Homo sapiens: one gene and its partner. The protein of the gene in region 2 interacts with the protein of the main gene of each other region in a pairwise test. Each region holds a gene or a part of one and is shown on either strand. Other genes may lie near its edges.

What was found.
Region 1: the proteins of RBM10 (region 2) and BAHD1 interact in binary tests that used the Homo sapiens proteins (3 or more experiments, as listed by UniProt).

What each region holds. Positions count from the first base shown.
Region 1 is NC_000015.10:40,447,364-40,450,969, forward strand, and holds part of BAHD1 (bromo adjacent homology domain-containing 1 protein), read left to right. Parts: intron 1-3,606.
Region 2 is NC_000023.11:47,172,660-47,176,265, forward strand, and holds part of RBM10 (RNA-binding protein 10), read left to right. Parts: intron 1-468; coding exon 469-538; intron 539-2,359; coding exon 2,360-2,433; intron 2,434-3,606. UniProt on the Homo sapiens protein: Binds to ssRNA containing the consensus sequence 5'-AGGUAA-3'. May be involved in post-transcriptional processing, most probably in mRNA splicing. Binds to RNA homopolymers, with a preference for poly(G) and poly(U) and little for poly(A).

The sequences.
Region 1 (3,606 bases), on a different chromosome or scaffold from region 2:
CAAGACCACCCTGGCCAACATGCTGAAACCCCGTCTCTACTAAAAATACAAAAATGAGCCGGGTCTGGTAGCATACACCTGTAATTCCAGCTACTCAGGAGGCTGAGACAGGAGAATTGTTTGAACCCAGGAGACAGAGGTTGCAGATCGCGCCAGTGCACTCCAGTCTGGGCGACAGAGCAAGACTCTGTCTCCAGAATAAATAAATAAATAAATAAATAAATAAATAAATAAATAAATAAATAAATAAAAATAAAAATGATTGAATAACTGAGAGATGATTTCCAGAGAAATTGAAAGGACTTGAATTTATTTGGCCCAGAGGGAGGTAGACAAGGGGCAGTTAATATGTCTTTGCATGTTAAGATGACAGTTTAGAGCATGATGACCAGTTTTTAGTCTTCATTGCAGTCTGGGCTGGAGGCAGGGAATTTCACCTGAGACAAGAGGTATTGGGTAGATGCATGGTTGGGGGTTACCTTTTTCTGGATTTACTATAAAATCAGGACAACGTATCTTTGAAGCTCTCTCATTTATTCATTTATTTATTTAGCCCAGACTTCTTAGCATGTCACCCTTTTCTAGGATATAAAATGTTTGTTTCGGCCAGGTGCGGTGGCTCACGCCTATAATCCCAGCACTTTGGGAGGCAGGCGGATCACGAGGTCAGGAGATCGAGACCATCCTGGCCAACATGGTGAAACCCTGTCTCTACTAAAAATACAAAAATTAGCCGGGCATGGTGGTATGCGCCTGTAGTCCCAGCAACTCAGGAGGCTGAGGCAGGAGAATCGCTTGAACCTGGGAGGTGGAGGTTGCAGTGAGCCGAGATTGCGCCACTGCACTCTAGCCTGGATGACAGAGCAAGACTCCATCTCAAAAAAAAAAAAAAGTTTCTTTCAAAAAAAATTTTTTTAATTGTATTTACGTTCTAGCCCATAGATGCCATTTAATTGGAGTACATCTTCAGTTCCTCTGTGGTGGGAAAACTAATAATGTGTGGTAATGCCAATAATTAAAGCACAGAAAAATAAAACTGAACGTGCAAGTTATCTTGCATCTTGGTCTGTGATCCAGCAGCCATCCTGTGATGCCCTAAGTAGAGGCAGTGTGTTGCAGTGCAGGAAGTGTGGGCCTTGGTGTAGATGCCAGGATGGCTCACCTCTGTCCTCAATCCTAGCAACTTTTTATTTTTTAAGAGCCAGCTCTGTCACCGAGTCCAGAGTACAATGGCATGATCATGGTTCATTACAGCTTCCACCTACCGGGCTCAAGTGATCCTCCCACCTCAGCCTCCTAAGTAGCTGGGACTACAGGCACACACCACCATGCCCGACTAATTTTTTATTTTTGTAGAGACAGGGTCTCACTGTATTGCCCAGGCTGGTCTTTTAACTCCTGGCCTCCCACAGCACAGGAATTCTAGGTTACAGGTGTGAGCCACCACGCCCACCCAGCATCTCCTTTTAACTCTTTTTTTTTTTTTTTTTGAGACGGAGGTTCACTCTTGTTGCCCAGGCTGGAGTGCAGTGGTGTGATCTCGGCTCATCGCAACCTCTGCCTTCCAGGTAGCTGGGATTACAGGTATGTGCCACCACGCCCAGCTAATTTTTGTATTTTTAGTAGAGACGGCTAATTTTTGTATTTTCTCCATGTTGGTCAGGCTGGCCTTGAACTCCCAACCTCAGGTGATCCACCCACCTCGGCCTCCCAAAGTGCTGGGATTACAGGCGTGAGCCACCGCGCCCAGCCTTCCTTTTAACTCTTTGTACCTGTTTTTTTTCCTTGTTAGGATGAAATGGTAACAACTAGCTCATAAGGCTGTTGGGAAGATAAATGAGATAGTGAATGTAGTGTGCTTAGGACCTTGCCAGGTGCATAGTGAGTGCTTGACAAACATTGACCATCCTTTTACAGTAGTCACCTCTGCAGTGAATCAGAAATTTCCAACCCTGCACACTTAGGGTGTCTGGGGACTGATAATGCTAACTTTAGTTCTTTGCTCCTGATTTCACCTATCTGTGACATTCTTTGTCTTGATACAAGTGTCTGTAGTACTACATTCACTTGCTTAATGGTTTAGGGGCAGCCACAGCCAGTGGAATGCTTTCCAGAGGTAGCTGGGCAACTTGGGAGAGAGAAGGAGGAGGATGAGGCCAGGCATGGTGACTCATGCCTGTAATCCCAGCACTTTGGGATGCTGAAATGGGAGGATCACTTGAGGCTAGGACTTTGAGACCAGCCTGGGCAACATAGTGAGACCTTGTCTCTACAAAAATAAAAATAAATTTAAAAATTAGCCAGGCATGGTGGTGTAGGCCTGTAGTCCCAACTACTCGGGAGGCTGAGGTAGGAGGATTGTTTGAGCCCAGGAATTCGAGGCTACAGTGAGCTATAATTGTGCCACTGCCCTACTACTGCAGCCTGGGTGACAGAGCAAGACCCTGTCTCAAAAAAAAAAAAAAAAAAGAAAATGAAAATTGATGGTAATGAAGGAGGGTTGTGCCATGAAAATACAAGAGATTTCCTATTGTAACCTTGTTGCACTGTGGATTAAATTGAAGATGCACAGTGGACTCCTGGGGATGGAGGAGAGTTTGGAGGTCAGAGGGCTCTTGTCTTGAGCTCCAAGTGGTGCTCTAAGTCTAGGATAAAGATTTTACACAGGGTGGGGCAGGTGGACAGCCAGATCTTCATTTATTCTTACCAAGCTCTTATTAAGTCATGTGGGTGGGATTTACTGTTAAGGAAGGCAGAGCCTACCTGTCCCCATAGGGCTGGCATCCTATTGGAGGTGGCACTAGCCACTTAACTAGTTAAGTGAGTGATATTTGGGTAGGGTGCCCATAACTCTGATACGATCTGCCTTGCGATTCTGCTCCTGCTAGTGGAGTGTGGGGGAGGCCTGGTCTTGGATCTTGTTCCTCACAGCTGGTTCATTCAGGAGGTTAGTGCTCTGCTGAGGAGGCTGGAGGCAGAGCTCCATCTTGGCCTGGCTGGCTAGTTTCTGTTCAGGACTAGAGCTAGCACCTGTAGTCTTGGCAAGCCATTTTAGAAATCTAAGTTGTTGGTCCATGTAATGTCCTGGTGGTTGAACCAACACTCGTTCTTTGCCATTCCTGGGCAGGTGCTTGGAGAAGGCTGGTGAGCTGTTCATGTTTTTTGAAGAATGGTGCATCAGTAGCACAAGGTTTTCCCTGGTTCTGCTGAGGCCTGTTGCTGAGCTTTGGGGTGCCCTGTCCCCTGTTTTATTCCTGTTTTATTTCTCCCACATTGTTAGCTGCTCAGAGCAAATGGGTTTTGCTGCAGGTGTAGGTTTGCCTCTGGCTGATCCTGGGCAGTATGGCATCTGGATGGGAGGGTCTGAGGGAGCCTTAGCCCAGAGTTAAGGGGTGCCCCCCAACCCCTGCCTGGAGTCATCCTACATGGAGCTAATAGGGGCGAGTCTGGGAAAAGTTGCATTTGTTTCCTGCTTTAAGACTTTAGCTTTTGGGCCGGGCTCAGTGGCTCACATTTGTAATCCTAACACTTTGGGAATCCGAGGCAGGCAGATCCCTTGAGGTCAGGAGTTTGAGACCAGCCTGGCCAACATGGTGAAAACCCGTC
Region 2 (3,606 bases):
ACATTTATGTCATGGATCTCTTTTGACGCAAGCTGCAGGTCAGCAGGGCAGGGGCGGGGGTGCGGGTTATCCCCTTGCCAAGGGCAAGAATTGCATCCCAGGTTTCCTTACTTCGTGGCTGCCAGCGAGCCCTTTGTCAGATCACCCTGCCCACCGTTCTTAAGTGGCTGGCTCACTTGCTCTCTTGTTCTCTGTGCCCCTGAGGGTCGTCCTGCTGCCATGCTTTACCTTGCTCTGTGCCCATTTCTTCATTTGATTCACTTTCTGCAAGTCTGGGGCTGAAAGTCAAGACTGTGAACTGGTGTGGGCCTGGGGCTGTTGTCACTCAGGGAAAAGCTGCGAAAGAGGCGGAGGAGACTGTGTGCACATCACCGATGACCCCTCGGGATCCAGAGGCCTCCAGCCAGCCTCAGGTACCCAGCGGCCCCATTGTGCTGAGCCTGCCCTACTCTGTATCTCCCCGTATAGATCCGTGGCCAGCTGCAGTCGCACGGCGTGCAAGCACGGGAGGTTCGGCTGATGCGGAACAAATCTTCAGGTGAGCTTTTGTTCTAGTGCCCTCCCCTTCAAGTGGCCAGCCTCAGCCTCCGAATCTCCCTCCTGCCTCTGCCTTCTCCCCCACTCCCTCCACCACCTTCCTGCCACAGCTGGGAATGGGCAGCGTGGGGGGTGCCCTCTCTTCTCTCCCACTCCCCACACTCTCCTCACAGCTCCAGCCAAAAGCCTCTTCAATGGGGCTGTCGGGGCAGGGGTGCAGCTCTGAGCTGAGCTGGGTGCTCCCTGGGGTCAGGGCCAGGGCCAGGCTCCCAGGCACCTCCTCTCTGGGACTCTGAGTATCTGAGATGGTAACCCCCTCCCATACACTCCCTTCCCTCTCCTTTCTTCTCCTTCCTCTGCCCCTCACTTTCCCCCACATTTTTTGGTAACAGCCTCTGACCAGAAAGTAGCTCTGACGTGGTGGTCCCACATGTGTGTCCCAAGGGGGAAGCAGGGGATGGCTCTTATCCAAGGACACATCCCAAGGAACAGCCAGGACTTCCTGGCCTCGCCTGTTCCCTCCCTCCCTCCCTCTTGCAGGCTGCTTGGAGCTGGCCTGAGGTTAGCAGGGTGGTGGTGGGGGGAGTTGTCTCTACAGGACCTCTGCCCAGGCTCCCCAAGGCAGGCACAGTGGGGCCTCACTCTGCCTGGGCTTCTCTCTCCATCTCTCAGTCTCTCCTCCCCACACCTCCATCTCTCTCTCTCTCTCTCTCTCTCTCTCTCTCTCTCTCTCTCTCTTTCTCCCTCTCTCTCTTTCTCTCTCTCTGCCCCCCCCAACTATATTATTCATTCCATCCTCCTATGCATCCTAACGGTTATTCTTTTGAACATTAAGCATGCCCCCCCAAGCCCCTCTCATCCAAGCCCTCCCCATGTATCTGCCTCTAAAGGACATGCTATCCTGAGGCCTCAACCCTGAATCCCTTTCCCAAGCCTGGAATCTTGGTTGCATGTAGGTCTTGCTCTGCATCACCCCAACTACACCACACACGGACAGCTTCTGGGTCTCTCTCTCCACAAGGAGGTGTTCCAGGTGCGGCCTTCTCAATGGCCCTGGGCGCTTCTCCCAGGCACCCATTGATTCTTACCTCTAAGGTCCTCCTGGCCAATCCTGGCCACCATTCTCCTTTTGTCCAGGGGAACCTGGACTGTTTGTGGCTGTAGTCTCCACCCTGTGGCCCTGAGGTGGCTCCCTAGCGAGGCCCGCCTCCCCTGCGCTGCGGTGAGGCTGAGATGAGGTCGTGTCTTTAACCGCCCCTGGTTTCCAATGGGCCAAGAGCCTTCCTAGCCTCGCAGAGCAGCCTGGCCCAGCTTCTCTTTTGCTCCTGTGATTCAACACCTGTTACAGGACCCCTCCTGGGCACCCCTGGCCTTGAGCTGGGCCCGCCCTGGAGTTACGTATTGTGGCTTGTGTGGAGCCAGCAGCCTGCCCACCATCCCCTCCCTCCTTCTTTGGAGGCAGATCTCTCGTATTCTTTCCCTCCCAGCTGCTTCTCTCCGTCTCTGTCACCCCAGGCTGGCTGGGCAGGTCTGCCCGAGCCCCATCTCTCTCTTCCCAGTTGGTGTGTGTGTCTCTCCCCCTACCGACCTCTGGCCTCTGTTTTTCTCCCTCCACCTTCCCTGCCCCACCTGGCCATCTACCTTGCCCCCCACGCCCGCTAGTCTTTCTCTCTCTGATTGCCTCTTTCTCTTTCTTCCTTTTTCCTCTTCCCCTTTCCCTCTCTGCCCCCCGTCCTCTCCCCTCGGGTCCCGCCCCCGGGAACGCCGTGTGTCCAAAGCTGTTGACTAACCCACTGCGTCTGTATCTGAATGCTGTCTCCAGGTCAGAGCCGGGGCTTCGCCTTCGTCGAGTTTAGTCACTTGCAGGACGCTACACGATGGATGGAAGCCAATCAGGTTGCTTTGCCGCACTTGAACCCCCCCCCAAACAAATACTACTTTGTAATCGAGCGCTCCCCATCGCCTGATTCTTATGGACACAGTTCCCTGCCCTGTGGCCCTGTGTCCCATCCCCCCGCCCCCTCTCTCCCCTTCCTGACCCTCACTATCTCCTCTTCCCATCTCTCGCTACCCCACTGGGCTTCTCATCCAGAGCCCACACTCACCACTGGCCCCTTCCTACCACCAGGCACTAGTGCTGCCCCTTCACCTCTCCCAGCTGAGCGTTCAGAGAAAGAGCTGCCAGGGTGGGTTCTTTCACCTAGCTTCCCACTCCCCCGGGGCTGGTGGGGGGGGCACCCCTCTCTGGGGTTAGCCAGAGCCAGGACCTCATTCCACCCTCAGGACCACTGGAAGTCCTGCCAGTGAGGAGCTTAGCTATTGGCACAGTCACTAGCAAGACTCATTTTGTCAGCCCCATCCCTGCATGTGAATTTGGCCCTTTGATTTTCATGCAAGGGGACAGCACTGCTCTGTTGATCTCAAGTTCCCGTCGAGTATGATAGTTTTATCGACACCCTGGCCTCACTTCGCCGCCCCTACCCTTCCTATCACATCTCCACACTCGCAGGAGGCACCACCTCAGGCAGCTCTGTCTTCTCGGCAAGGACCTGTGCACAGTCAGCCCTGGGGGGAGCCTGTCCCCCAAGCCTGGCACGGGATCCCAACTCAGCAGCTTTGGGACCTCCGAGACCCAAAGATCTGCCTGGTCACCCACCCCTGCCCAGATCCCTGGTGTAGGGCACTGGAGAGCAGTTTCAGGGGAGGAAGGGGCAGAGGTGGTAGAATGGGGGATCCCGGCAGAGGCAGCCCTGGGGCCGTCTCCTCGGGGTTGGTAGGCTAGTGCCATGGGCCCAGGACCCAGCCATCCATGGGAAGACGGCCTCATGGCAGAAACTTCCATCTGTTCGAAATGGCTCTTTCTTTTTCCCCTTCTCCAGCACTAGCGCACCTGCGCTCTCTTTCTCTTTTTCTCCCCTCTCCCTCCCCCTCCCTGTCTCCCCTCACCCCCCAAGTGTAGCCTGTGTAGTCCTGGCCCTGGGTGTGGCCTGGCAGTGTCAGGGCCGAGTGGGGGTTTCTCCCCACTGTCCGGCAAGCGTCGGTCAGCCGAACACTGTGTGCCTGGTGGTG